Linked DNA regions of Homo sapiens. The protein of the gene in region 1 purifies or fractionates together with the protein of each later gene. This does not show direct contact. Each region holds a gene or a part of one and is shown in the gene's direction. Other genes may lie near its edges.

Region 1 (4,762 bases):
TTTTAATATGGAGAGGCAAATCCTTGGTATCTGTAGAACCCATCCTGAATTATCGAATGCTCTATAGTACATTTCAGACAAACAATACACTTAATATTTTTTTCTCTTCGTTTATCTATCTCAAGTCTCATACTCCACCTCTATCTAAAAAGAAGTTGGAGGGACTCTTTTTAGATACAGGTGGAGTATGAGAACTCTTTTGTTTTTGAGACCACATCTCACTCTGTCGCCCAGGCTAGAGTGCAGTGGCGCCATCACGGCTCGCTGCAGCCTCGATCTCCAGGGCTCAGGTGATTCTCCCACCTCAGCATCCAGACAGGCAGGCGCCAACACACCCGGCTAATTTTTGTATTTTTAGTGGAGACCAGGTTTCGCCATATTGCCCAGGCTGGTCTCGAACTCCTGACCTCAAGTGATCTGCCCGCCTCGGCCTCCCAAAGTGCTGGGATTACAGGCGGGAGCCACCGCGCTCGGCCTGGCAAATTTTCTTGCTGTGCTTTAAATTTTCTCCCTAGTCCTATTTTTTTCCTTTCTTCAGGAAATATGGTCTCTGTTCTGAATCCTTATCACAAGAAGCTCTTAAGGAGTAATGACTCCTCCCTCTTTGGTCAAACTAGGTTCTCTCCCTTCACTCAGATTTAATTTTTTTGGTCACACTTCCCCACCTTTTGATAGTTACAGTCAAACGACATGTAATACTTACTCTCCCAATCAGCCCTTGGCGAGTAGCAGGTCTTGTAGGTACAAGTAGTCTCTGCACAGTACACTCGGGCCCACCAAGTGAAGGTCTGATTACTTCTCACTCCTCAGCTTATCTAACCAAGCAACACTGGAACCCTCAGACCACAGCGTTCAAGTTGTCGCACAAAGGACATTATTCACGTAGTAAGTACTGGGGCCATTTTTTTTTCAGTCTGAAGTGTGATATCCCCCAAAACATTTCCTAACCAAGGCATGCTAGGCCAGGATAAATCGTGCCTGCACATATAAAACAGAAGGGTACAGTGGCTGCTCCAGTTTGGAGCACCCAGGTCCTCCTATAAGAAAATATGGTTTACATTCCCAAATTAGTCATTATTAATGGGAAGGGAGAACCAATAAGTGCATGTGAGAGTTGAGAGAAGACCAGTTGGGAAACTTTCAGATGTTTACTTTTGCCTTCTGACAGTCGATCAGCATCCATCTTTCACTCACATCCTGTAAAACCGAGTTTTGTTAAAGCAGCGTCCTGTTTCTAGAGTCTAGGATAGCGGGATTTAGTGAAGAGTCTAGGATAGCGGGATTTAGGGAACGGGTCTTCTCCACCTTGCCCAACTTGTGGCTTTTTGGGGTATCTCGCAGAGTTATAAATATCTAGAGTTCTCCCTAGTTTTTCTGATAGCCACAGCATCTGAGGACCCTGTCTTTCCCCGTCTTGAGGTTCGAGTTTCCTCACCTTGGTCAGTTTTCCCGTCTCTGGCTAGGCTCCGAAAATAGACTGTGCAGAGCGTGGCGTCTCTCCGTTGCTAGGGTAACAACTTTGTTTTGTTCCCGCCCCCCACCTGCCAACCTCCGGGTTCCCGCTTGACTTTTCTGGCCAATCATAGAAGAGTCTCATCTGAGACTGCACTGGAATCGACCAATCCGAGCGCGTCCAGGTCAGGGTCACTGGTCGCCCTTTCTAGTTAACCAGGTCGACCCCTTTTAAGCCTCAGTCTCGGTTAGCTTCACTTCAGCGGGAACCTGCCCACTAAGGAGGCCGATTCTTTCCGGCTCGAGCAGGTCCGGACCCGCCCCTCTGGCGTCTAGCAGTCTCGGAGGCCTGCCCGTATAGTTCAGGGCCGGACAGCGAGCGGCGGCGACTTGCCAGTAAGGTAAGTTTGTGGGGTTTTCGTTTGTCCCGTTCGTCAGCAGGCTTCGCTCTCTTTTGCGCTTTTCCCGCGCGTGAATTCCCGATCTGAGGACTCGAACTCCAGCCGATCTGGAGAGACGGGGGCAGAAGGGTAGGGTCAGTGGGCCGGGGGTAGAGAAGGTTTTGCTACAGTCCTCCACGCCCCCAGCCTTTCACGTCTCCCCCACGCGACAGAAACACGTGTTGTGCTTCTGTCTTGGCTTGTCGCGGGCGATAGTGTGTTTGTATGTGTGCAGGTGGGATCGCGCTTTTTATTCTCCTCTGTAGGCAAGGCTTCCGGGCCCCAAGTCCCCGGGGGAGCACCTGGTCAACTGCCACCCGGTTCCTGTGGGGCACTGGCTTGAGCTACGTGTCGTTCCCACTCTAAGGAACATCGCGACTCCGGGAGCTCTGCTTTTCCCGCCTCGGAGTGGAGAAAAGCAGGCGCGCCGCTCGCTTGCCACTGCTAGGGAATCTGGTTGTCTTAAGTTCACTTAGAGATAGAGTTGTTACCCTAGTTTCCCATAAATTCCGTGGCTTGGTTTTAAACAAAGGGGCGGCGGGGGGATGGCGTAATAAATATTTGGAGTATTCAGGACTGATTAGCCATGATCAATAGTAGGACCCCACAGAAGGTTTTAATGAATGGTTACTTTTGGTTATTCAGGTATTGGAATTTGATTATGAATGAACTAAACTGCTTCCCTTCTTTCTATATACCATGCATTTCTTAACGACCATCCCATCTGGCATAAGAGATAGTGAAGTTTGATTAATTTGTCCCTTCTACTTGTTCTTATCTACAGTAAACAAAAAATGGGGGTAGAATAAGGTTATTGGCTAAAGTAACGTTATTGGCCTTTTGGCCAAATTACCAATACCTTAATTCCGCTTATTACTGTGAATGATCAGAGTTTAGCTGTCTTGCATTTTGCTAATTCACTAGATACTTGTGGAGCTTAAATTATAGATATTATGCCATCTCCTTCTTCTTGCTTTTTTGTTTTTATTCTGCCTCACTGTGCATTATTCTAAGTCTGTAATGCTCAGCCGGTGTTTTTCAGACCTTTTGACTGTGACCGACAGTAAGAAATAAATTTTATATTGTGACCTAGTACACATGTAGACAATATATAACCGACAACTGTTTTTACAGAAACAACACTTAACACTTACTACTTGCAATATACTCTGATAATTTCCATTACATTTTAAAAAATGTACACCACAACACCCTAATGATTTGTCCCTAGACCTTTAGTTTTCAAACTTGTGTGTGCACTTTATTTAAAATTTATTTAAATAAATAATTTATTTAAAATTTATTTAAATAAATAATTTATTTAAAATTTATTTAAATAATTTATTTAAAATTTATTTAAATAATTTATTTAAAATTTATTTAAATAAATAATTTATTTAAAATTTATTTAAATAATTTATTTAAAATTTATTTAAATAATTTATTTAAAATTTATTTAAATAATTTATTTAAAATTTATTTAAATAATTTATTTAAAATTTATTTAAATAAATAATTTATTTAAAATTTATTTAAATAAATAATTTATTTAAAATGCAGATTGCCCTGGCTCCCTCCAGAAATTGGTTCTGTGGTCTAGTGGGACCCAGGAAGATATACAATATAGCATATATGAAATACTTGGTACAGTGTCAAGTGCACAGGTGTTCAGTGAATATTAGTTTTCTTCTTGGGGAACAAATGTTATTTATCTTTAGGGATATAATCAACTCTTCAAGGTTTCATCTGTCCCTGGCAAGGTGGCGTCCAATACTAAGAACTGTTTTCCCCAGGTAGAGGAAGTAGCGGGGTGGGGGATGGGTCCAGGATCTGAGATTAATCTTTAAGCAGTTGGCTTCCCTGAACAATGTCGGAAATACAGAAGCTTAGAGGTTGAGGAACATAAGGATTAGAGAGGTTCTGTGACTTTCCCAGGATTGTGCTGTCAGTAAGTGGATCTCCGAGACTAGAAGTCACTTCCTTATTCTAATATTCTTGTCCATTCTGCCTTGATAGCAGCCGCAATCTGGAGGCAGTGGTTGAAGCAGAAAGAGAGCTTCCCTAACTTGCCTATCCCAAAGGAGAGACAACTGAATTTGACTCCTAGTTCGGTTTTAAAGTAATGAAACTTCTAACCTGCACATTGTGCACATGTACCCTAAAACTTAAAGTATAATAATAAAAAAAAAGAATAATGGTGAAATAAAGGTTTTTTTAAAGGGAAAAAAAATAATGAAACCTGAGAGATCTAAAATATTTTTTAAAATACACCCAAAGGTTTCTGTGGATTTATAGCTATGAAAAATGGATATAGTTTAGCTAATTCTTTTATATAGAGTATTTTAAAACACTGGTTAAATAATTTATTAATGCAACATTGAAAGAAATTAAAGATGAAAAATCTCACTCAATTCTGCTACCATAATATAACTGATAATTCTGTTCCCCTCCTATCTTTATCCACATGTACCCATGTTTTTACATGATTGTGATCCTTTTTCATATACTTTTTTGTTATTTTTATTTAATACTGTTTTGGAAATTTTTTTCTGTGTTGTGATGATCTTTATATTTTGCATTATTAACAGCAACCTAATATTTCGTAGAGTGAGTTGGCTGTAATTTACTTAGCCTAACTAACCAACAACAGAAAATAAGATACTATGTGTCCTTTGAAAAGGGAGATGTAGCCAGGTGCGGTGGCTCACACCTGTAATCCCAGCACTTTGGGAGGCTGAGGCGGAAGAATCACTTGAATCCAGGAGTTCAAGACCAGCCTGGGTAACACAGTGAACCCCCATCTCCATAAAAAATATTAAAAAATTAGTCAGGCTTGGTGGCATGTGCCTGTGGTCCCAGCTACTCAGGAG
Region 2 (4,132 bases), on another chromosome or scaffold:
CCACAGCTGGATTCCAATGATTCAGAAATCGAAGTATGTCCCCCTGGCTGTATTAGAATGAATAGTACAGATGTCGCCATCATCTTTCTTTTCATTTGGTTGGAGTGATTGTTTTTTCTCTAAGGCAGAATCATTATTTAGAGAGCTAATATGCAAAATGATACAGATTGGTATTGGTACATGTGTTTCTACTGTGATTAGTACTTCCCTGAGAGATGGAAGCAATTTTGTAGATCTTTTACAAGAACTGGGCAGTTTTCAGTAGTTAATTTAGCCTTCTTTACTAGAATCTCTGTTGTTACTAAAGATCACTCTCTGGGCAGCATGATGCCCAATCCATAGCAGGTGTTCAATTCATATTTATTGAGCGAATGTTTAGATTCTTTTGGGAAATGTTGGTCTTCTCGCTGATGTTGCCTATCACTAAAGCTCCAACTAGTATGTCTTTTGACTTTGTATGTGGTATTCTTGTGTTTGTTTTCTATTTAGAAGTTCAATAATTTTATTGAATTCAAGTCTGTCAATTTTCTCCCCTTGTTATTTGCTTTTGACATTATGCTTAGAAAGCCTCTCCACTTTCAGATTATAAATATCACATGTATTTTTAAAGATATTGATCAATATTTTATAATTAGATCTAAATTTTTAATCCATTTGGAATTTGGTGTATGCTATAAAGTAACTTAATTTTAACTTAATTCTTCTCTAGTGGTTAGTTCTTTATTGAATATAATCGTCCTTTCTCAATTGAAGTGAAATATATAACTTAGACTGATTTTTAGTATTCTTTTACTTTGATAGAAAACAAGGAAAGGGCGATGGTCTTGAAAAAATTTTTTCTGGAATATACTTTATATTTTACATTTTTGTTTTATTTCTTGGAAAAGCTCTATGTAGATTTAACATCTTAAAGGAAGATAGGATTTCTGAGGCCTATTGTTATAGGATTATTTTTTTCTGGTCTGGAAATGCAGTGTAAATAAGAATATTTTTATTAAAAATTTTATGTGCTACTTATTCATTTTAGAATAATTTAAAATTATAGAAAAGAAACATATTGAACAAAAAGGGCATTCATCTTTATATATTGCTTTGTAACCTGATTTTTAAACCTAATGTTGTATCATAAACATTTACATTAACATAAATGATTTAAGTAAATAAAGTGGTTTAAAGGAAACCCAGTGTTCCATTATATCATTTTATTATAATTCCTTTCACTCTGTTATTAGACATTTAGGTTGGTTAAGAGCTGTAGAAATCTAAAACTGGGATGTTTTTCTAGAAGAGAATATAAGGGGACAAGGTGAAGTTCTAAAGTAAAAGAATGTCTGAAACTTTGGTCTTTGAACTATAGCATAGCAGATTACAGTCACTGTATATTGTGCCTCAAGATTTTCTGTTTCTTATATGAAGCAGGAGGTAGAATAACTTTGTTTAGAGTTATAGCTTTGATTTTATGAAAAGCTTTGGTTTTATGAAAATAAAGAATGTTGGAAAAACATCCTAAAACTATATTATCCAAAAACAGCATGTTAATCAGGTGCAGTGAATCCTACGTTATCTGATTTTCATTGAGTACCTTGAGGACTATGGGGATGATTTGTAAGAAGCGAAGAGGCTGGATTATTTCTTGCAAAAGACCACTTTTTTTGTGGGAATAGATTAGATTTGTCTTAAGGCAGTTACTGGCTTGGAAAATGATACATTCTGAAGAGTGGTTAGTTTAGCTGCTTCAGACAATAGAACATCAACCTCTGAGAATATTTGTGGAAATTAACTATATTTACTTATTCAATATGATTATAGGGAGAAGGACTCTTACTTTATTGCATAGCAGAGTGCTTTTTCTCCACAACCCACACCCTCAACTCTTGGCCTTCCGCTTACCTTTCCTTCCTCTTCTTTGCCTAGAAATCCTGTGTTGGAAGCAGGTTTAGGGCAGACAGTCAGCCTCAGTCTTCAATGAGGGACCCCGTACAGAGTAACCCAAACGCTTGTTCCTGTTTCAGGATGTGAACACTCTGCAAGGAGGTGGGCAGCCTGTGGTGACTCCGTCCGTCCAGCCCTCTCTTCATCCGGCCCATCCAGCGTTACCACAGATGACCTCACAGGGTAAGGAACCTCTCTGAGGCTCTGTGGCCTTGAACTGGGTCAGCATGAAAATTATCGTCACTGTTCCTTAAACTGTTAGGCTGCATTGTTTCAGTACTGAGGACTAAAGTGTAAATGTAAGAGTGTGACGCTTGTCAGTTTGTCCCTGGGTAAGGCATTTTCATACCCAGAGATGGACCTGGCTGCTGGTTGTGACTTCTGCTGTGTTGCACTGTCAGTTTTGGAAATCTGCACTCAGCTATTGAGACATCTCCCTGGGTGTGTTCTGCACTTCCTGTCGGGTGGGATCCTAGGGCTGAGTCAGAAGCACATGAGAGCACCCAGTTTCCTTCCACTGGCTCATTCCTGAGATTGCAGTAGAGCTGAGTGTAGGGAGACTAGGCAAGGAAAATAGTTGAGTCTGAAGCATGATAGTATGTAAGGTGCTAGTCTAGACTCACACCAAGAAGCAAGGGTGGATAACAGTGAAAATGTCTCCCTTTATCTTAGCACCTCAGCCATCTGTTACTGGGCTCCAGGCACCTTCTGCTGCCTTAATGCAAGTGTCATCTCTCGATTCCCACTCAGCTGTATCTGGAAATGCCCAATCCTTTCAGGTAACATTTTATAACCGTATTAATTATATCCTATAATTTGCTGTGGTTCTAGTCAGTCTCTTTTCTTCTTCCTGTACATTTCATACAGTAGCAGTTCCCCAAAGTCAGAGTTTGTAATTTTTTTCCCTTCCTTGGTTACCACTTTCTCATCTCTAAACCAGGCAAAGGATAACCTACGTTCCAGTGTCATAAAGATTAAATGCAAGAACAAGTAGAGCCCCTAGTACAACGTAGTAAAGATGCAATCAATGTTTGTTTCCTTTTCTTTTCACACATATCCAGTTGAAGCGTGTATATTCGCGTTCTTCTGTATTCTTTTCTACTAAAAGTTGGCAGGCTAACATTCTGCAGTATATTCAGCAGAATGGTATGGTTTAAAAGTGGAACCATGTGGAAAATGTAGCTTGACTCTGCTATCTAGTAAACTTTTCTTAAAGAAGGCCTTTTTCCTGTTATCACAGAAAACAATGGCAGCAGCCTGTTTGCCAGGGGTAGCAGACCCTTTCTTCTGCCTCAACACACTTGGTGGATAAGGCATACTGTCACTGGGAACAGCTGCTCACTCCTTGTGATGCTTAATGGAGGTGTGGGAATGATGGTGGATAGGCTATGCCTCATTAACATGGGGAGTCTCGAAACTGGAAAAAGTCCCACTGTTGCCCTCTTTCTCCCCATCCCTCCTCTCCTCCATGGAGAATTACTATGCTGTAGACTAAGAATTTTTTTTAAGTGGATGCGTAGTTATATCTATCCCTGGAAATGAGCTAGACTTCCTTATTTCAAGGAAGAATTACCATCCTCATTAAAATAAAAGCTGCTGTTTATTAAGCGCTTACTATCTGTCAGGCCTGTAACTTACTAGCTTTTCAGAACTTTACCTATCTCACTTCATTTAGTCCACAGAACAGCCCTATGAAGTGATATTATTATCTTCCTCTTACAGTTGAGGTGACCGAGACTCAAAGGAACATGAGAGCTCTTGGTCTCGTGGATTAGCTTCAGAATCTAGCAGGGGAGAGGCATCCTTGGAAATTGGCAGATTTGGTTTGGAATCTCAGTGAGCACTTCTTCTTTAAACTCAATGGAAGCTAAGCAGAGTTTATTAATCTAAAAACTTCTTAGACAATAGGCCTGATAATGGGGAATGAATCCCTGCTTAATTATCTCACCAGATGACTGGGTAGTGACCTAAGATACACTTTCTTCAGTTTCTGGGTAGGATTTTAGTGACTGGTTTCCCCTGGGATACATAGATAACTCTCCTGCTGCAGTCCTTACCAACTGCCAAACCCAGATCTCACCCATCTCTAGCTTCAGTAAGTTTGAGTCTCCTCCCAGCTCATCCACTTTATTCCACCAAAGAAAAATGTGAACAAAAAAGAAAGACATGAATGTTTTATCAACCAGTGGTAACTCGTCAG
Region 3 (4,132 bases), on another chromosome or scaffold:
CATTTCCATGTCTTTGGTCCTACCCACCATGATTTACCAAGGGGAAGGTTGGAGCTTATTGTGGTTTTATTTTTACAAAATTCTTGAGTTTGGATTATTTTCATGTATTGAATGAGGTAGGCATGTAACTTAAAAGTTAAAAATTCCCAAATAACCTAATTGTCCCAGCATCATTTATTGAATACTTTTTATTTAATAAACACTTGTGCCTTCTGTGCAGTTGGTACTGTTCTAAGCACATTACTGATTTAAGCACTAGCTGGTTGAATCCTCATAAACAACGTTGGGAGGCAGGTCTCTTGCTATGCTTATTTTACAGACAAGAAACTTTGAGGCTCCAAGAGCCCTCTTGCCTTGAGGATCCACAACTAGTAAGAGGCAGAGTTGAGATTCAAATCCAGGGTCTGTGGTCTGAACCAGTGTGCATGTTGAAGGATTGTCAGATTGACAGATGCAAGCAGATACCGACCCTCTTGGTAAGAAGGCATCCAGACTTAGAAGGCCCAGGGGCACTTTACAGGTGGTTGATAAGGTGATTAGGCTGGAGGAATAGGAGGCCCTGAGAGGCCTGGGGGCTGGTGCCTCTGCCCCATGACCCCTGCACATGGCCCAGTGGTCTCATGACCACTGATAACCAGGGGCAGCAGACGGAAGCCAGAGTCAGGGGTATGTTTGGATAGGGGGCAGGGCAGGGTACAAAATCAGAAATAAGCGGCCGGGCATGGTGGCTCACACCTATAAGGTGGGTGGATCACGAGATCAGGAGATCGAGACCATCCTGGCGAACACGGTGAAACCCTGTCTCTACTAAAAATACAAAAAAAAATTAGCCGGGCCTGGTGGCGGGTGCCTGTAGTCCCAGAAATAAGCATCAAACTAAGAACTGATATTTGAGGTAAACCAGTATCATGAAAGAGCATCACCAAACTCAACCAACTCCTGACACCCTAGAAGACAGAGTCACTATGAGAAAGAGGAGGTGTAGTCTATAAATATGTATGTGCAATGAATAGTCTCAGGTAATAAGAGTATATTGTATCCATGAAACAGACACTGGTTGCTATGAAAACGATTCTATTAAGGATCTTGGAAATGAAAAATAGATTGAAATAAAAATCTCAGCGGTTGGCTGATAGAATAGATCCTGAAGAAGGAAAGATTTAGGAGTTGGTCCCAGAGACTTTATCATCCAAAAACTCCTTCACAAGGAATTACCTGGCTGGGTGCAGTGGCTCACGCCTGTAATCCCAACACTTTGGGAGACCGAGGGGGACAGATGACTTGAGGTTGGGAGTTCGAGACCAGCCTGGCCAACATAGTGAAACCGTGTCTCTAATAAAAATACAAAAAATTAGCTGGGCATGGTGACAGGCGCCTGTAATCCCAGCTACTTGGGAGACCGAGGCACAAGAATCACTTGAACCCGGGAGGCAGAGGTTGCAGTGAGCCAAGATCGCACCACTGCACTCCAGCCTGGGTACAACGGAGCATGACTCTGTCTCAAAAAAAAGAGAAGGAATTACCAAGAGACTGTAAGAGGAAAGAGTGTGATACAAAAGCACAGCAATAAGTAAAGAAACTGCTAAACTTAGGTTTCTGGTGTGCATGTTTGAATTCTTAAGTCAAAATGCTCCTTGTATGTTGTATTTAACAAAACAGTCAATTGAACGCATAATGAAAAGCCAAATGTTTCTGCTGTGACCTGTTTCCATGTTCCACTCCTTGAAGGCAGTCACTTAGTTCTTCAAACTACTTCTCACGGCTACCTCTGTATCTCTTTTTATTATTTATTTATTTATTTATTTATTTATTTATTTTTTGAGACAGAGTCTCGCTCTGTCCCCCAGGCTGGAGTGCAGTGGCGGGATCTTGGCTCGCTGCAAGCTCTGCCTCCCGGGTTCACACCATTCTCCTGCCTCAGCCTCCCTAGTAGCTGGGACTACAGGCACCTGCCACCACACCCGGCTAATTTTTTTGTATTTTTAGTAGAGACGGGATTTCACCATGTTAGCCAGGATGGTCTCAATCTCCTGACCTCATGATCCTCCTGCCTTGGCCTCCCAAAGCGCTGGAATTACAGGCATGAGCCACCGCACCTGGCTTACCTCTGTATCTCTTAATAAGCCTATGTTGCTTTTTCTTGACTGAACAGTTTTATGCATGACCATTGACATTCTCTGAAGATATATGTGGATTAATAAGTTCTTTTTTTTTTTTGTTTAAAGAGATGAGTTTTCATTCTGTTGCCCAGGCTAGAGCACAGTGGCATGATCATAGTTCACTGCAGCCTCAACCTGGGCTCACAAAATCCCCCTGCCTCAGCCTCCCAAGTAGCTGAGACTACAGGAGTACACCACCGCATTCAGCTATCAGCTTTTTTTTTTTTTTCTTTTTTTAAGAAATGGGTTTTTGCTCTGTTGCCCAGGCTGGTGTCTAACTCCTGGGCTCAAGCGATCCCCCAGATCACTGGGGTTACAGGCATGAGCCATCATGTCCAGCCTTAATAAATTCTTTTTATTAGTTAGCAAGTGAAAAAGTCAGACCTCTAGGAGGCAGATATAAGAAGGGCTTCTTATCTCCACCCTCTGAGGGCCAGCAGAGATTTGAGACCTTCCACCCTCACACCCCACAAGCATGATTTGTTCCCACTGGAGCCTTGTGGACAGAACTGGCCATTGCCTCTTTGCCGAGGTGACCTGCCTCGTGTCGTGCACTAAAGATGTCAGAAGAGCCAGGTGCGGTTACTCACACCTGTAATCCCACCACTTTGGGAAGCCGAGGCGAGTGGGCCGCATGAGGTCAGGAATTTGAGACCAGCCTGGCCAACATGATGAAACCCCATCTCTACTAAAAATAAAAAATTAGCTGGGCATGGTGGTGGCTGCCTATACTCCCAGCTACTCAGGAGGCTGAGGCAGGAGAATCACTTGAACCCAGGAGGCAGAGGTTGCAGTGAGCTGAGATCGCACCACTGCACTCCAGCCTGGGCGACAAGAGCAAAACACCGTCTCAAATCAATCAATGAATCAATCAGAAGTATAGACAGACACATCCACTATGGCTTTACTTCCTTGTTTGGAACACCAAGGGGCAGGCTTCCGTCCTTTTCTATGAGAGAGTGCAAAGCATCAAGCCTAGAAAATGATAACAACAGTGCAGGATATAAAGCTGAAGGAATATGTCATACTTTGTTTTCTCTCATCTTCTAAATTGTCCCCTGGGAGTGGGCCAGCCCTGACCATGCTCTCCAGGGAGAGCCCACCAGGTCCTACGTGTTCACACACTCAGGAAAACAAGTGGCTAAGAATCCCTGTGGTCTAGCCTCAGCAGGATTGTCCAAGCACCCCAAAGTTAACATAAAATCTAAATAATTGATGTTTGGGGTGAAATAAAAGAAACTAAAATCCCAGATGATCTAAATATGTGAGGCACAAGGGGAAGGAGGGAGGTAGGTGTGCAGGCCTTTGTCTTGTTTGACATGAGGATAGAGCTAAAGGGTAATTCTGGATATTGATACAAAATAAAAGTTTAGGTATGTGTGTCGATTAGCCATTAAAGGAACAGAAGTGAGGTCTATAACTTCCGTACTACTATAGAGAGAAAGAAGCAAAAACACAGGAATTGGAAAACACAGAGATGGGAAATTGCATAGCAGGTGAACGCTACCAAAAAGAAAGGATGTAGAGAATTGTTTAGGCAAAAAAGACTTTAAGGAGAACAGCACTAAAAGGAGCAAAAGAAGTTCCTGATAAAAGGGAAAGTCATCACGAACATATAGATTGTGAATCTTGGTGCCTGCACTACATAGCTTTGAGCCATGTAAATAAACAACCTTTAGAAATCATTTAAGTCCAGAGCTGGGTGCGGTGGCTCATGCCTGTAATCCCAGCACTTTGGGAGGCCAAGGTGAGCAGATCACCTGAGATCAGGAGTTCAAGACCAGCCTGGCCAACATGGTGAAACCCCATCTCTGCTAAAAAAAATTCGAAAATTAGCTGGGTGTGGTGGCGGGTGCCTATAATCCCAGCTACTCGGGAGGATGAGGCTGGAGAATCACTTGAATCCAGGAGGCAGAGGTTGCAGTGATCCGAGATTGCGCCACTGCACTCCAGCCTGGGTGACAGAGCGAGAC
Region 4 (4,132 bases), on another chromosome or scaffold:
CACCCAGCCTGGGCAACATGGCGAAACCTCATCTCTACAAAAAATACAGAACATTAGTTGGGTATGGTGGCGCATGCCTGTAGTCCCTGCTGCTCTCAGGAGGCTGAGGTGGGAGGATCACCTGAGCCTGGGGAGGTCAAGCCTGCAGTGAGCCGTGATGGTGCCACTGCACTGCAGCCTGAGCGACAGAGTGAGACCCTGTCATCAATCTTTTCTTTCTTTCTCTTTCTCTGTTTCTTTCTTCCTTTCTTCCTTTCCTTCCTTCTTTCGTTTCTTTCTCCTCCCTCCCTCCCTCCTTCTTTTCTTTTTTTTCCTTCCTTCCTGCCTTCTTTTCTTTTTTTTCTTTTCTTTTCTCTTAACAAAGCAGTGAGTTAAAACCTGACTGTTGGATTGTAGAGCCTTCAATTAGTGTCTAGTTCATTCTCCTAGAAAGACAAGTGCTCTGCTTGGCTAGTCATTCTGAAATCATCTGTAAGCCCCATCTTAGTTTAAGAATAGCCATCAGATAATTCTTCTCAGCCTTTTCTCCTGGTTTCCTGACAGTTCCAGTTACTTTTTCAGCTTTTCTTCTTTTAGGGCCCTAAAAACCCTTCATGAGGCCTTCATCTTGTGTTACCTTTTCTTTGTAATACTAAAGTTTTATGACAAACATCCCATTCTGGATTCACATTTTACTGTATTAGTCATGGCATGTAAAACAATTCAATAATTGGTACCCTTCTGATTAATTTATTATAGATCTCTTAATATGTAATTCAACTTTTAATGATTCCCTCAGTAAAGGATTTCTAAAACAGTAAAGTTTGTAGGTATTTAGATTAATTGAAGTTTAAAGCTGAGACCTTTGGATAGACATTATGGATGAGGAGCTTAATGTGATTTATACTATGTTTTGTTTAGCTTATCTGATTTTGTCTATTCATACATATATATATATATAAAGCACAAAATTAAAAACATGTAATTTTTCTAATAATACAGTTTGATATATTAATGACTGAACCTTCAGTATTCAGATTCCTGTCTCAACAATATATTGTTATGTCCCATACGTGGTAATCACATAGAGTAATAGTGGTAGCTGTGATTTATATGGCACTTTAAAGGATATTTTTACATATATTTTCTCATTTTATCTTCACAACAACCTTGTGAAAGACATAGGGGAAGTACTAATTTTTCCCCCCATTTTACAGATGAAGGAACTGAGACACAGAGGTTGAGACTTGTCTAAAGTAACATGACCAGTAAGTGCTTGAATTAATGCAGGTAGGTAGTGATGGGTATGTTCTAATCTGCCAAGGGCTTTTCCTTGCTGTCATCTGGCTTGAGTTCTGAGGATATAAATTCATATAGCCAAAATGGTAGGGAACCAGAAAGGTAATGAGTAGATGGACTTTAGGACTACACTAGGGAAATGGTGCTGCTGTTCTTTTTAATTTCTTCCTTTTTGTTCTTTTTGTTTGGTTTCTAACTTGTTAGTAATGATAAGCAGATACCGTCTTTGGTTGTTTCCGTTAGATGAATGAAGCTTTTGTTTTAATTGTAGATTATCCCTGAGGAACTAAGGAAATAGAAAATCTGGAGAGAAGTCTGTTGGGATTCTCACAGGGAATAGCTATTAGATCAACTAAGCAAATGAAAAAGTTAATAGTATATGGATAAACCACATGTGTGTAATTGGAACTTCTTAGGATTCTAAGATTTTTAAAATCTTGTTTAAAAACTGTATTATCACCTTAATATAAAAATCTTAGCGCTTGAGCGTACTTACCCAACTGTGGTTTTCTTTAGATGAGGAAACTGAGGTCCAGAGAAGTTGAAGTTTTCCCAAGGTCACACAGCAGAGCTGGAACTAGAGCTTGCATTTCCTGACTTCCAGATTAGTGTTATTTTTACTTCAAACTATTACTTCTTGGTAAGCTGTTCTTAAAATACTTAAAAAGTCTTTTGTATATTTAATTTATGTTTTTGATTAACATTCCTACTTTGTGCCAAAATGAACTTACAGATACGAATTTACTATTATTTTTGTGATGAGAATTTCAATTCTTTGTTTAATTTTAGGTGAGTTATTGTGGGAAAAATCCTGTATATTGAAGATGTCTCTACACAGTATCGTTTCCTGTTTAAATTACAGATAACTTCAAGAGTTTTCAGAAAAAAAGAAATTGGGACTTTTTTGGTTAAATCATGCCATCTGAACAGAAACAGTTATTTTGTGATGAAAAACAAACTACTTTAAAAAAAGATTATGATGTGAAAAATGAGATAGTTGATAGGTCGGCACCTAAACCAAAAATTTCAGGAAGTATTCATTATGCACTAAAAAATGTGAAAATTGATTTGCCAAAAATAAATATTCCAAATGAAGTCCTATTGAAACATGAAGTTGACAAATACAGAAAATTATTTCAGAGTAAACAGCAGACTGCAAGAAAATCTATCAGTATAAAGACTGTAAGCTGTGTAGAGGAGTGTACATTGCTTCATAAGTCTGAGAGAGCTGAAGAAGAGGGTGTAAAAATGTCTGCAAAAATACTCAATTTCAGCTGTTTAAAATGCCGAGACAACACTCGATATAGCCCAAATGATTTGCAGAAACACTTTCAAATGTGGCACCATGGCGAATTACCTTCATATCCTTGTGAAATGTGCAACTTTTCAGCAAATGACTTTCAGGTATTTAAACAACACAGACGAACCCATAGAAGCACTTTAGTAAAATGTGACATTTGTAACAATGAGAGTGTATATACTTTACTGAACTTGACAAAGCATTTCACATCCACACATTGTGTTAATGGTAATTTTCAATGTGAAAAGTGTAAGTTCTCCACCCAGGATGTTGGCACATTTGTTCAGCACATTCATAGACATAATGAAATTCATTATAAGTGTGGTAAATGTCATCATGTATGTTTTACCAAAGGAGAGCTTCAGAAGCACCTTCATATTCATTCTGGTACTTTTCCCTTCACTTGTCAATATTGTAGCTATGGTGCCACCAGGAGAGAACACCTTGTAAGACATGTTATAACTTTGCACAAAGAACATTTATATGCAAAAGAAAAACTGGAAAAAGACAAATATGAAAAAAGAATGGCAAAGACTTCTGCAGGACTTAAGCTAATACTGAAAAGATATAAAATAGGTGCATCAAGGAAGACGTTCTGGAAACGTAAGAAAATTAACAGTGGAAGTGACAGAAGTATAGAAAAGAACACTCAAGTGCTTAAGAAAATGAACAAAACACAGACTAAATCTGAAGACCAGAGCCATGTTGTTCAAGAGCATTTAAGTGAAGAAAAGGATGAAAGACTACACTGTGAGAATAATGATAAAGCCCCTGAATCAGAGTCAGAGAAGCCAACTCCTCTGTCCACTGGGCAAGGTAATAGAGCTGAAGAGGGACCAAACGCTAGTTCAGGTTTCATGAAGACTGCTGTACTAGGACCTACACTGAAAAATGTAATGATGAAAAATAATAAACTAGCAGTTTCCCCTAACTATAATGCTACGTTTATGGGCTTCAAGATGATGGATGGAAAACAGCATATTGTATTAAAATTGGTGCCTATCAAACAAAATGTATGTTCACCAGGCTCACAGTCAGGTGCTGCAAAGGACGGTACTGCTAATTTGCAGCCCCAGACTTTGGACACTAATGGATTTTTAACAGGAGTAACAACTGAGTTAAATGACACAGTTTATATGAAAGCAGCTACTCCATTTTCATGTTCATCTTCTATACTTTCAGGGAAAGCAAGTTCAGAAAAAGAAATGACTTTGATATCTCAAAGGAATAATATGCTTCAAACAATGGATTATGAGAAAAGTGTATCTTCTTTGTCAGCAACATCAGAATTGGTTACAGCATCAGTGAATTTGACCACAAAATTTGAAACAAGAGATAATGTTGACTTCTGGGGAAATCATCTCACTCAGAGTCACCCCGAGGTATTAGGTACCACCATTAAAAGTCCAGATAAAGTCAACTGTGTTGCCAAACCAAATGCATACAACAGTGGAGATATGCATAATTATTGCATTAATTATGGCAACTGTGAGTTACCTGTTGAATCCTCCAACCAAGGATCATTACCTTTTCATAATTACTCAAAAGTGAATA
Region 5 (3,304 bases), on another chromosome or scaffold:
GCCTAGCCCTGGAAGTGAGCACTGCCGGCCACAGATCCTGGGAAAGGTGGTAGTAACCCAGAAGATGTAGCCTTGAAGGGAGGATACCTATCAAAATGCCAAAGCTGCAGGGACACGAAGACGGTTGAAAATTCAACCTGTGTATACTAGATCCTTCCAGTTTGATGGTTTGGTCATTCTTCTTCATGATTATACCATGGAGAATTTTCTGTGACAAGGGTGGTCATGGAAGTAAGTGAGTGATCCCCTGGTTTCTCATTCCTTAAAGCAGTGGTTCGCAAAGTATGGCACAAGACCAGCAGCATCAGCAGCCTTTGGGAACTTGTTAGAAACGAAAATTCTCAATCCCATCCCAGATCTGCTGAATCAGAAACTCTAATGAGAGGACCCGGCAATCCACGTTTTAATAAGCCCTCCTGGTGATTCTGATGCACACTAAATTCAACTGTTTTAAAGGGAAAGCCCTTTATAGTATTGGAGTTCCCACACTGAGAGGCTTTGGGGCCCAAAATAAGAAGGTTCTAGGTTGTCATTCAGACTTTAACATTAATTTCAAAGTCACCTTTCTCATGCTTCCTTGTGTTTCTGTTTTTCCATTTATGATTTTAACAAAGAAAGGTATGTGTGCTTTTGGGTGGAAGTTAGGAGAATGTTTGTGTCTTTCCTAGTTGAATACAACCTTCAGAGAAAAACCTTATGCCTTGGAAATTACTACCTGGCACACAAAGGGGCTTCAACAAGGAAAAGCAGTTGGAGGTCTCTTCCAGATTGCTCTTCTGCCGAATTATTTGTATCTATTCCGAGCTGATTATGTAATAGGATGGAAAAAGTAAAAAAAAAAAAAAAAATCTAATTTGTATTTCCATGACAACGTGTTCTCCCAGCAACATCCCTCTCCTTTATTTGAGTTATAAAGGGCACTGCTGGGCCTGAGAACCAGGCCAGAACCTCCTTCTGTATGGCAGCTAACAGTGTAGGGCTCCAGTATCCCAGGAAGGCCCCTTATCCACACTCCACTCAGCTCATAGGAGAGTCTTGCATAATGAAGACACAGACCTGGGCACTTCAGTCCTTGTGCTCCTCCTCTCTTTTCCCCACAGCAGGACCTGGATACAGAAGTACTCAGCCAAGGTGACAGAATAAAATCCTTTTTTTGTTGTTTTCTGTTTGTTTGTTTGTTTTGGAGAAGGAGTCTCGCTTTGTCACCCAGGCTGGTGTGCAGTGGCACGATCTCGGCTCACTGCAACCTCCGCCTCCCAGGTTCAAGCGATTCTCCTGTCTCAGCCTCCTGAGTAGCTGGGATTACAGACGTGCGCCATCACGCCCAGCTAATTTTTGTATTTTTAGTAGATACGGAGTTTTGCCTTGTTGGCCAGGCTGTGCTGGAGCTCCTGACCTCAGGTGATTCACCTGCCACAGCCTCCCAAAGTGCTGGGATTACAGGCGTGAGCCACAGCACCCTGCCAAATAAGATCCTTTTTAAAAAATATCTGAAAAAAGCTTCATATCTTTACAAACTCATAAAATAGCTGATTGGGCCATGGAGGAGATGAGGCTGTTTAGAACTGGTTTTGTTTCAAGTTTGTCAATTTTCCCTGTATGAGAACTTGGGTAAAGCACAAAGAAACATACAGTGCTAGTAACAGGTCTCCTGCGCCCTGGAACTAAGTGTTTGGAGGAAGGACTAAACCCCGGGGGAGGTGAGTATAAAATAATTCCACTAAGATCACCTCCTCAGTCCCCAGAAGGCTGATGGTGGATCCTCTGGCCATCTCCTGTGGGGTCTTACTGCTCCTCTGCCATTTCTCTATGCCTGAAGACACGAAGATGATATCAAGGCAGAGCTACCATATCGCAGCCAGTCTCTAGGCTACTGCTGTGCAGTGGCTCCCACTTTCTAATGCTTTTTTGTTTTTGCTTTTTCTAACAAAACAATCTTTTTTCAAAATGAATTCCAACCCCTGCTAGCTTCCTTCCCCGCCTCCATACTGTTTTAGGCAGCACCGTTTATGTGACAGAGTCCGTGTTTCTCAAATGCATGGTGTTCCTCAGGTGGAGAGTGGGCAGAAGTTTTTGCAACACTTTTTTTTTAAGTTATTGGGTGCAAAATCCCAAACCAGGATATGTGTATGTCTGTGTGTTTATGTTTTTTATTTGACCCTCCCCTCTTTCAACCTACCCCCTTTTATATCTAATGTAGAAAAAGCGAAATTGAATCTGGAAAGCAAACTGTTGTATATAGTTGCGGTAACAATCATGAAGAGAGAGCCGGGCTGTCCCCTCAGTAATTCATTTTAAATAACAAATTATTTAAAAATAAAATTCATGCCAGAGCCAGCTGAAGAGGCCTTCCTTCATCACCACTGAGGCCACCCCCAATCTGGGCCCTCTGTCCATCTGGCATGTCTCCTCCCAGCAAGATTCATCTGTTCAATGCCATTTGCGTTTCAATAAAGTTATCTCCTGTACTGTCCACTGGTTCTCTAGCTCCCTCTCTGCCTGGTTTCTGTCTCCATTTATCTTGTGGCCCATTCCTTGATTGGCAAGGCCAGACTGCTTGTGGTCATTTGCCTAACCCAGAAGTAACCTGAAACCCTAAGCTAGAGTCTCCTGACTCCCATGGTTGGGGGTGGGAGGAACCCCTGCTCGCACATTATGGACATAGAATCCTTCACCGGATCTCAAAACATCCAGCCCAAACATCAAGGCTCCGGAGTCCTCCATCTGGGTTGCTGCAGTGTTTGAAAACATACCACCCTCTTGACTTTGCTAAATTTTCTTCTTGGGGTAAAAGTGAACTGACCTATTAGAAGCTGTTGTAATCAAGTTCAACTTCTTTTGGCCACTTCAAGAAAGTAAATAGGCTTACTATTCCCCATTGCAAAATTGAAGGGTCCAAGAAGCAATCTTTTCCCTATGAAATTGTAGTAACATAACTCATCTCTGCCCTCTTAACATGGGAGGTGACAAGTGTGTTGAGAACTCTCTTCAAGCCAGTTGCAGTGGGTGTACCTGTAGTTCTAGCTACTCTGGATGCTGAGGTGGGAGGATCACCTGTCCAGCCTGGGCAACATAGCAAGACCCCCCCAACTCAAAAATAAATAATTGAGAAAGCTTTCTTTTGAAGTAATCTTCTGATGAGATGACTTAATCCCTGATTGTTACCAGTCCAGCATCCACAGTCTTGGAAGTGACCTAGGATTTGGTAACTCGTTTCCTTTGCCATGTGAGAATGAACTCACTTGATAAGGGTTCCTGGGAACCATTTTGAAGGCACATAACCTGAACAGCTCACTAAAAAATA
Region 6 (4,576 bases), on another chromosome or scaffold:
TCTCCGGGGAGTTCCCCGCTCCGACCGAGCGAGTGCGCGGCCGCGATCTCCCCGCCCGCAGCGGCAGCCGTGGGGCCCGGCCCTGCCCTCCCGACCGCCTCCCTCCCCCGTCGCCCCGCGCGCCGCACATCCCTCTCTCGCTCACTGGCTCCAGACTGGTTTTTCTGGTTCAGCCTCCCTCCCTGGGACGCGCTGGGGGATCCGATGACGTCGTTGGCTGAGTCTCTCCCTCTTCCTCCCTCCCTCCCTCCGCCTCTCCCCCCGTCCGCCCTCGCCGCGCACTCCTCCTAGTAACTTCTGTTCGGGGAGGCGCTGCCAGGAATAACCCGGTGCGTCCACAGCCCGGGAGGGGAGGCGGCCGCTGCGGCTCCCGCACGCAGACAGCTGCGGCCCGGGCCTCGCGGCTCCCGCCTGAGCCCGGCGGCCCCTGCCCCGGGCCCATCTCCGTACAGTGTCAGAAAAATAAATAAAGGCAAGAGGAGCCTGGGCTGGCGGTCGGGATCTTTTCCCTCCCTCCGCGCCCGCCCTCCCTCTGTCCTTAAGGAAATGCTACCAGACACCCCCCACCAGACACGCTCAGCCTTGGCGAGGAGCGGCCGCCGCGGCAGCGAGAACAAGGGCACCAGGGGGGTTTCCTCCCCCTCCTCCTCTCCCTCCTCCTCCCCGTCCTCCTTCTCCTCCTCCTCAGCGGTGACTTTCCAGGTGAGCGGCCGCCGCGGCTGCGAGGATCCCCCTCGCCCGCTGGGGCTCGGGCCGCCGCGTCGCGCCCTCCTCCCGCCCCTGTCACCCGGCGGCGGCCGGGAGCTGACAGCCGCCCGAGGGGCTCGCGGCCCGGAGGCGGGCGGCCGGCGGGAGGCGGGCTGGAGGTGAGGGGGTGGAGAGGAGGAGAGCGGGGCGCCGCCGAGCGCCGTCGTTCCCCGCAGGAGGGTCTCCGCACAAACATCTTCGGTGACTGTGGCACAAGTCTTTGCCAAGTTGTGTCTTGGACCTTGACGCTCCACGGAGCCCAGAGCAACTTGGAGGGTCTCCCGGCTCGTTCACAGCGTTCCTCCACGTCTCGCGTCTGGGGTGCTGGGTGCAGCCTCGGGGTGCGCGGAGGGCGGACCGGCCACCGCGAGAGCGGAGCGGCGGGAATCTAGGTCCCTCCTCGGCTCGGTAAGTGGCCTGGACGCTGGGTTTTTCCTGCCTCCTTCGGCGCTGGGAGCTTGTTTCACTTTATATTGGAATCGCCGCCGCCGAACTCCGTCCCCCGCTCCCCGGCGTGTGCCCCCAGCCCCTTCCCGGTGGCCCGAGGGTGAGGGTCGGAGGGGGCGGGGATGGGGGAGACCGCGGGAGGGGTGTCGGGCGCGTGGGGAAATGCGGGGAATACCCTGGCCGCGGATCTATGCAGATGAGGGGAGGCTGCTTTGCGTAATGTCCTGGGGGGAGGGGGCCGCGCGGGAGCGCTGGAGGCAGGAATGTGCCTGCTTACTAATGAGCGACGTGCACCGGCGCGCACGGCCCGGCCACCGCTGCGGCTGCGGCGGCCGGCGGCGGCCCGTTGTCAGGTAGCGGGGGAGGGGGCCGCGGCGCGCGGCGCAGGCGGCCGGGCGGGCTGGCGGCGCGAGGCCCGGGCCGCCGGCCTGCGGCCGAGCGAGCGCAGCGAAGGCGCTGGCTCTGGGCATTTCAGTGACTCCCTTTACCTCCCGGGCAAGGAAGGAAGGAAGGAAGGAGCGAAGGAAGGAAGCGAGGAAGGAGGGGACTGTCTCGATGGAAGGTTCAGGCGGAGGCGCCCTCGCCTTGCGGGTGCACCGGCTGCAGAGCGGCTCTGGCCGCTGCCGGCTGGACCCGGGCGCGTGGAGACGGGTGGGGGCGGTTTGCATGCGTGTTTGTCTGTCCGTCTGGCGGGGGATCGGGAAGGGACATGTGTGTTTGGGCTGTGCACTGTGGGGAACTGGGTCTGCGCCTTTATGTCTGTTCCCTGAAGTGGGTGGAACGTTGGCCCGTTCCGGGAATGTTCCATGACGTGGTGCAGCCACAGGAAGGGGGTTAACGAGGGGCTCTCTGCCGCGGCGGCACTGCCGGCTGCTATCAAAGCAGATGTGCTGCTGCTGCTCCTCCTCCTCTTTCACCTCCTTTCACCCCCACCCCCCGCCTTTCCATTCTGTGCCTCTGGTACTGGTAGGGGTGAGACAGGAAAACATTGCTCTGGGTGTGTGCGTGTGTGTGTGTGTGTGTGGGTGTGTGGGGGAGGGGGTGCTGATGTGCATGTGTGGGGTCTGTCGTATTTGGTGGGGGGGGGGGGTGGACTCCAGATCCGCTCTGCTACCCCAGCTGTTATCACAGATCGGTGCGCTTTATACGCATGTGCCTCCCGCGTTCTGTCCCTCTTACATAACACATCCAGTGCAGCAGAGGACATGAGAAAATGCGACCCCAACCCTCCAAGCCCAAATTGGGTGAGGGGATAGAAGGTCAGGAAGCGTCCCTGGGTGTTGTCCTTCAGGGACTTGGTTCCCAGTGGGGGAAAGGAAGAAGGGAAGGAGGGTTTCTTCAAGTGGCTCCTCTCATCTCTGACTTAAAAGCATCTAACTAAAAAGGACTGCAGGCACTAGTCTTCCCTAACGGGAAAGCTTGTAACTAGCTACACCAAGGGAACGGGGGCACTTTAACCTCGGGAGTGCGGAGAAGAGAGAGGGTCCTTAATCAAGACACTTGGAGGAGAGAAGCAATAATGTGTGGGCGGCGGATGGGGGGCGCTGGGGATGACTTCGAGGAGACCAGAGGAATCTCTTGATAATAGGTTTCACTGGAGGCCTTAGGACACCTGTAATGGCTTAGCATTCACACAGGAAGTTGTGTGTGCAACTGACATTGCAAAACCCTTATTCTCTGCAGAGTTATTTAGGCCTAAAATGAATATAGAAAGGCTTGTTTCCTGTACTTTCATTATAATGGAAAATTTGAGCTGATTTTTCTCCTTCCTTTTCTGCCATTTTAAAAATAACTCAATTTACCTCCAAATGAATATTGGTACTCGCCCCCAACCCTAAAGCTGGACCTCAATAATTCACAAGAGATCTGTGTTTTTCTAGCATACCCAGAGCCCTAGTCAAGGGCTATTGATTTTTCTCCTCAATACAGTTGTTTCTTTTGTAGTGCATAATCAAGCCCAGACATTACTTGAAATATTAATAAGATCCATTTTAATTAAATTTGCAATGATCTGTCCTCCTAGAAAAAGGCCATTTAACTTTATTAGAAACGTTTCCTCCAGTGATATAGTAATATTTGGTGATATTTGCCCTTGAGCAAACCAAGTTATTTTAAATATTTGCACATATAGATCCCATATGTTTGCTACATATGTAGCAAATGTCTCATTGCTTTTTCACCTTATAAGAGTGCCAGAAGCAGAATTTTAACGAAGTAGACTGTGGAATGAGTAGATTGGGTTTGATTTTTAGGATATAGGCCAAATGGTTTATCAGAACAGAAATGTCCTTTCTGTGACTAAAGTGGGTATCATTTTCATTATTAAGAGAAAATTCCCTGTGGAACCCTAAGGAGTCATAGTACCAAATGACAACTGTACATTTGCATTGTGAGCTGAAAGGGATTTACCAGTATTTACTTAATGATAGTGTGTTTGTTTCAAGTGTCATAATCCCTTTGACCACTAGGTTTGAAATATGCAGTATATTTCTTATATACAGAAATGTATTACAATGATGAATCTTTTGAACATTGAGACAATTTCTTGCGTCGAGCATAGGTCGGGTATAAAACAAAATTTGCTTATTTGCATCTGTATTTTTGTTACAGTGACTGTATTTTATGTGGCTAACTTTATTAGAGATGGCTTATATTTATACAAGGGTATTCAAGAGTAAATTGATGTGTGACTGATTCGGGGACAATTTTGGGAATGGTGGTATATTAATGATCTTACAAATGTAAGATCTAACTGATTTTTAACTGGTTAGATCCTTGTAGAGGTGTTTGGTAAAATACCACTAAAGTACATAAAACATTTCTATATTCCTATTTAACATGGAATGTGAAAAATTTACTATGTGTATATTATCACATAGGAAAATAATTCTCTTTGATTACATTGAAAGATTAAGCAGCAGAATATTTTGATTGATCAGGCTCCTTTGCATGAGATGTGTTTGTGAATGTTCTTGTTACCATGAAAACAAAACAGAGGACAGTATATAGGGAGACGTTCCTTGTGGAGTAATGGTGCATGTGTCTGCTTGAACTTTTGGCACTTTGTCACTATTCAGAAGATCTGTTTGACTCTTTTATGCTGATTTAATTTAAAATGAAAAATCTTATTCCAGAATTTGCCATTTTTTTTTTTCAAAGCAGGGCTCATTTTAACAGCAGCAATAACAAATAACTCTGTGTTGTACACTGTATTGGGTTTCAGCTTTTGAATTATAACAAGTACACTATTTGGGTTGGGTTTCAGTTTTTAAATTATTATCAGTAATTAGCTAAAGTCAATTTGAAAGCTTCACATAGGAAAAGTAATTTTAAAGAATGATAGAAAATGTTAGTTGGCATGAGTGAAACTATAATCCATGAG
Region 7 (4,132 bases), on another chromosome or scaffold:
CCGAGGCGAGGTCAGGAGATTGAGACCATCCTGGCTAACACAGTGAAACCCTGTCTCTACTAAAAAAATACAAAAAATTAGCCAGGCATGGTGGCGGGCGCCTGTAGTCCCAGCTACTCAGGAGGCTGAGGCAGGAGAATGGCGTGAACCTGGGAGGCGGAGCTTGCAGTGAGCAGAGATGCGGCACTGCACTCCAGCCTGGGTGACAGAGGGAGACTCTGTCTCAAAAAAAAAAAAAAAAAGCAGCAGCAACAGAGCAGTGCTTGCAGTAGGAGTTAGAGGTGGGGCATAGGCACAGAGTTCAGAATGAAATATGCAAATCTGTGGATGTGAGAATAATCTGGGTGATCAAGGAGATCAAAAGAAAATCATGTTGCTTTATAAGATTTATTTGTAAGTGGGGGACTGTCAGAATTGGATTTTTTTTTTTTTTTGAGATGGAGTCTTGCTCTGTTGCCCAGGCTGGAGTGCAGTGGTGTGATCTCAGCTCACTGCAACCTCCGCCTCCCAGGTTCAAGCAATTCTTCTGCTTCAGCCTCCCGAGTAGCTGGGACTACAGGCACACACCACCTCTCCTGGCTAATTTTTTATGTTTTTAGTAGAGAGAGGGTTTCACCATATTGGCCAGGCTGGTCTCGAACTCCTGACCTCGTAGTCCACCCACCTCGGCCTCCCAAAGTGTTGGGATTACAGGCGTGAGCCACCGAGCCCGGCCCAGAATTGGATTTTTTTTTTTTTTTTTTGAGATGGAGTCTCACTCTGTCGCCCAGGCTGGAGTCCAGTGGTGTGATCTCGGTTCACTGCAACCTCCGCCTCCTGGGTTCAAGCAATTTCCTGCCTCAGCCTCTTGAGTAGCTGGGATTACAGGCATGTGCCATGATGCTTGGCTAATTTTGTATTTTTAGTAGAGACAGGGTTTCACCACCATGTTGGTCAGGCTGGTCTCGAACTCCTGACCTCAGGTGATCCACCCACCTTGACCTCCCAAAGTGCTGAGATTACAAGGCATGAGCTACTGCGCCCAGCCAGAATTGGATTTTTAAATGCAGGCGGAGGAATTTAATGTGAAATGCCGCTGATAGAGAGCTGCTAAAGGTCGTTTGGAAAATACCCATCCCATTTGAGTCCCTGCGTATGTGGGTGTGTATGGGTAGGTAGAAGGTGGGAGGGAACAGATAAAGCTTCCCAGCAGCCAAGAAGCATCTCTTCCTCCTTTAATCACCTTAGCCAGTGGAGATCAGTGGGGCCATCGAGGAGGAGTTCACTGTGGCCCGACTCTACATCAGCAAAATCAAATCAGAAGTCAAGTCTGTGGTCAAGCGGTGCCGGCAGCTGGAGAACCTCCAGGTGGAGTGTCACCGCAAGATGGAAGTGACCGGGCGGGAGCTCTCATCCTGCCAGCTCCTCATCTCTCAGGTGAGTGCCTAAGTTTGAGAACCTTCAGATGCCATGGGAGAAAGAAGGCTACTCTGGGGTTATGGCTAAAACTCCTAACACCCACCTTTATGTCAAAGTTCTGGGGTCAAGTGAAATCAAGGACAGAAAAGCTGGGGTGGCAGGGGTGCAGATCAGGGCCAAAAAAGTAAAGGCTCAGGGCGGGTACTGCCCCCTGAGCCATGGGAGCTAAAGGAAGAGCCCCATAGGAATGGCCCCCAACCCTGCACCCTCATGGGAAGTGTAGCAGGAGGGAGGGCTGGGAGGAGAGCTGGAGTTGGAGATCTGTGTGGCCTGGGTTTGTGTCCTTTGCTCCATCTTCTTCCTCTCACCAACTTTCTCCCACCAGCATGAGGCCAAGATCCGCTCGCTTACGGAATACATGCAGAGCGTGGAGCTAAAGAAGCGGCACCTGGAAGAGTCCTATGACTCCTTGAGCGATGAGCTGGCCAAGCTCCAGGCCCAGGGTGAGGCCTTCTTATACCTCCATCCCACTGTCCAGGGCAGAAAAGTCAGAAACATCAAAATAAATCACCCCAATAATCACTCACTCAAAGCATTAGCTTGAAATCATGGATGCCAACTCATATGTTAGCCAAGGTTTTGCATGTAGCTCATTTTACATTAACCATACACCCTTGTTCTCTGTTCCTGCTATATCAAATTGGACAGTCCTAACACAGAAGAACATCCCTGTGGGTCCATTCCCAGCCCTGCCTGGAGTTCTGGTCACAACGTGAAGTTCTTTCCGAAAGAGGTAGGTTTGATGTCAGCTGTCTTCCCCTCTTTCCCTTAGAAACTGTGCATGAAGTGGCCCTGAAGGACAAGGAGCCTGACACTCAGGATGCAGATGAAGTGAAGGTGAGTAAGGAAGGTGTCAGGGACAATTGGGGCCTGGTGTGGTGAAAGCTGTGCTGGCCCTCACAGAGCTTGTTGCTGGGAGTCTGGCCTTTGAGCTTGGGGTGGGGTTGTTTGCAGAAGGCTCTGGAGCTGCAGATGGAGAGTCACCGGGAGGCCCATCACCGGCAGCTGGCCCGGCTCCGGGACGAGATCAACGAGAAGCAGAAGACCATTGATGAGCTCAAAGAGTAAGGGTTCCCAAGGGCGACTCCAGCCCCTCCCGGGTCCTGTCACCTTGCTGTATTGACTCACATGTCCCCTCTGGGTCTGATTCTTTAACATCCATGTGTCATTCCCTCAACAATGCCACAACTTCGTAGCCCCACCTCAGGAGACACATGGAATAACGACTAGTCCCTATCCTTGAGGGTCCCAGGATTAGAGAGGTCAGGGTTCCTGGCTCTGTCATGGAAACAGTGGCCTGAGTCTGCCTCTGGTATCTGAAGGTGGACACATCAATTCTAACTGGACTCACTCGTTCAAAAAGGAAGAAGTTTGAAGAGCTGGCCTTCCCTTCCCCCTCATTAACATCTTTCTCCCCCATCTCCATTACCTTCTGATGCTCTGTAGCCTAAATCAGAAGCTCCAGTTAGAGCTAGAGAAGCTTCAGGCTGACTACGAGAAGCTGAAGAGCGAAGAACACGAGAAGAGCACCAAGCTGCAGGAGCTGACGTGAGTGGCATGGATTTACCTGTAAAACTACAGCCTTGTAGGCTCAGAACTGTGAACTCAGACACGCTTGCAGAGGCAGGACACACATGCAGACATGATAGGGTGACTCATGGGAAAAATATGATGGGGTAGGGACGGGACCAAAAGGACACTCTCAGCAAAGACTGCCGTTGAGTATTCACCAGTATGGAAGGAGGTTTACGTGTTCTATTCAGTGTAAAAACAGGTTACAAAACCATATGCATGGTATGATCCCATAAAAATGTATACATGGATATGTAGGCATAGAAAAAAGTCTAGAAAGGTGGACACCAGAAGGTTAATGTTGGTTTGATCTGTAAATAGTAGAATCATAGGCTTTTTATAAAAACTCACCTTATGTCTCTCTTTAAAATTCTTTTCTAATTTTTGCACAGTAAACATGAGTAACTTGTGTAATAAATAATAATAGGCTGGGTGCGATGGCTTACACCTATAATCTCAGCACTTTGGGAGGCCAAAGCAGGTGGACTGCTTGAGCTCAGTAGTTCGAGACCAGCCTGGGCAACATGGCAAAACCCTGTCTCTACTAAAAATACAAAAATTAGCTGGGCATGGTGGCATACGTCTGTGGTCCCAGATGCTTGGGAGGCTGAGGTGGGAAGGATCCCTTGAGCCCAGGAGGTTGAGGCTGCAGTGAGCCCTGATTGTGCCACTGTACTCTATCTAGCCTAGGTAACAGAATGAGACCCTGTTTCACAAAATAACAATAATAGTAATACTTAAATGGAGATAAAAGTAATAGAGGAAGAGGCAGGAGGAAGGAGAGTCCTGAGGGATCTTTCCATTTCCCTTATTTCTCTTGCTACAGATTTCTGTACGAGCGACATGAGCAGTCCAAGCAGGACCTCAAGGGTCTGGAGGAGACAGTTGTGAGTGGTTCCCTTCTGTGCCAAATTCACAGGACTGGGGAGTGGGGAGGCTTCATTTCTTCCTAACCCTATTCCTCCTGCCCTTTTGCAGCCATTCTGTAGCGTAATCAAGACACATTTTTTCCTAAAGGATAAGTGACTCACTTGATTATAGAGACTGGAGGTACCTATAATTCTGGAGGAATAGGACAGACCTGGTATCTGGCTATTCCCAA

Evidence for each region.
Region 2: the proteins of NUP62CL (region 1) and FKBP15 purify together in Homo sapiens (affinity purification with mass spectrometry; one large-scale study listed by BioGRID and IntAct). This does not show direct contact.
Region 3: the proteins of NUP62CL (region 1) and SUGP2 purify together in Homo sapiens (affinity purification with mass spectrometry; one large-scale study listed by BioGRID and IntAct). This does not show direct contact.
Region 4: the proteins of NUP62CL (region 1) and ZNF518A purify together in Homo sapiens (affinity purification with mass spectrometry; one large-scale study listed by BioGRID and IntAct). This does not show direct contact.
Region 5: the proteins of NUP62CL (region 1) and NAV1 purify together in Homo sapiens (affinity purification with mass spectrometry; one large-scale study listed by BioGRID and IntAct). This does not show direct contact.
Region 6: the proteins of NUP62CL (region 1) and HIVEP2 purify together in Homo sapiens (affinity purification with mass spectrometry; one large-scale study listed by BioGRID and IntAct). This does not show direct contact.
Region 7: the proteins of NUP62CL (region 1) and KIF5A purify together in Homo sapiens (affinity purification with mass spectrometry; one large-scale study listed by BioGRID and IntAct). This does not show direct contact.

What each region holds. Positions count from the first base shown.
Region 1 is NC_000023.11:107,203,364-107,208,125, reverse strand, and holds the start of NUP62CL (nucleoporin-62 C-terminal-like protein), read left to right. Parts: upstream 1-1,692; 5' UTR 1,693-1,853; intron 1,854-4,762.
Region 2 is NC_000009.12:113,186,372-113,190,503, reverse strand, and holds part of FKBP15 (FK506-binding protein 15), read left to right. Parts: coding exon 1-33; intron 34-2,012; coding exon 2,013-2,115; intron 2,116-2,604; coding exon 2,605-2,711; intron 2,712-4,132. UniProt on the Homo sapiens protein: May be involved in the cytoskeletal organization of neuronal growth cones. Seems to be inactive as a PPIase. Involved in the transport of early endosomes at the level of transition between microfilament-based and microtubule-based movement.
Region 3 is NC_000019.10:19,012,890-19,017,021, reverse strand, and holds part of SUGP2 (SURP and G-patch domain-containing protein 2), read left to right. Parts: intron 1-4,132. UniProt on the Homo sapiens protein: May play a role in mRNA splicing.
Region 4 is NC_000010.11:96,154,130-96,158,261, forward strand, and holds part of ZNF518A (zinc finger protein 518A), read left to right. Parts: intron 1-1,196; 5' UTR 1,197-1,247; exon of another isoform or gene 1,248-1,794; 5' UTR 1,795-1,918; intron 1,919-2,067; 5' UTR 2,068-2,193; coding exon 2,194-4,132.
Region 5 is NC_000001.11:201,824,497-201,827,800, forward strand, and holds the end of NAV1 (neuron navigator 1), read left to right. Parts: 3' UTR 1-2,473; downstream 2,474-3,304. UniProt on the Homo sapiens protein: May be involved in neuronal migration.
Region 6 is NC_000006.12:142,942,070-142,946,645, reverse strand, and holds the start of HIVEP2 (transcription factor HIVEP2), read left to right. Parts: upstream 1-1,469; 5' UTR 1,470-1,547; exon of another isoform or gene 1,548-1,845; intron 1,846-2,056; exon of another isoform or gene 2,057-4,576.
Region 7 is NC_000012.12:57,573,857-57,577,988, forward strand, and holds part of KIF5A (kinesin heavy chain isoform 5A), read left to right. Parts: intron 1-1,227; coding exon 1,228-1,416; intron 1,417-1,783; coding exon 1,784-1,901; intron 1,902-2,230; coding exon 2,231-2,295; intron 2,296-2,412; coding exon 2,413-2,522; intron 2,523-2,904; coding exon 2,905-3,006; intron 3,007-3,856; coding exon 3,857-3,917; intron 3,918-4,132. UniProt on the Homo sapiens protein: Microtubule-dependent motor required for slow axonal transport of neurofilament proteins (NFH, NFM and NFL). Can induce formation of neurite-like membrane protrusions in non-neuronal cells in a ZFYVE27-dependent manner.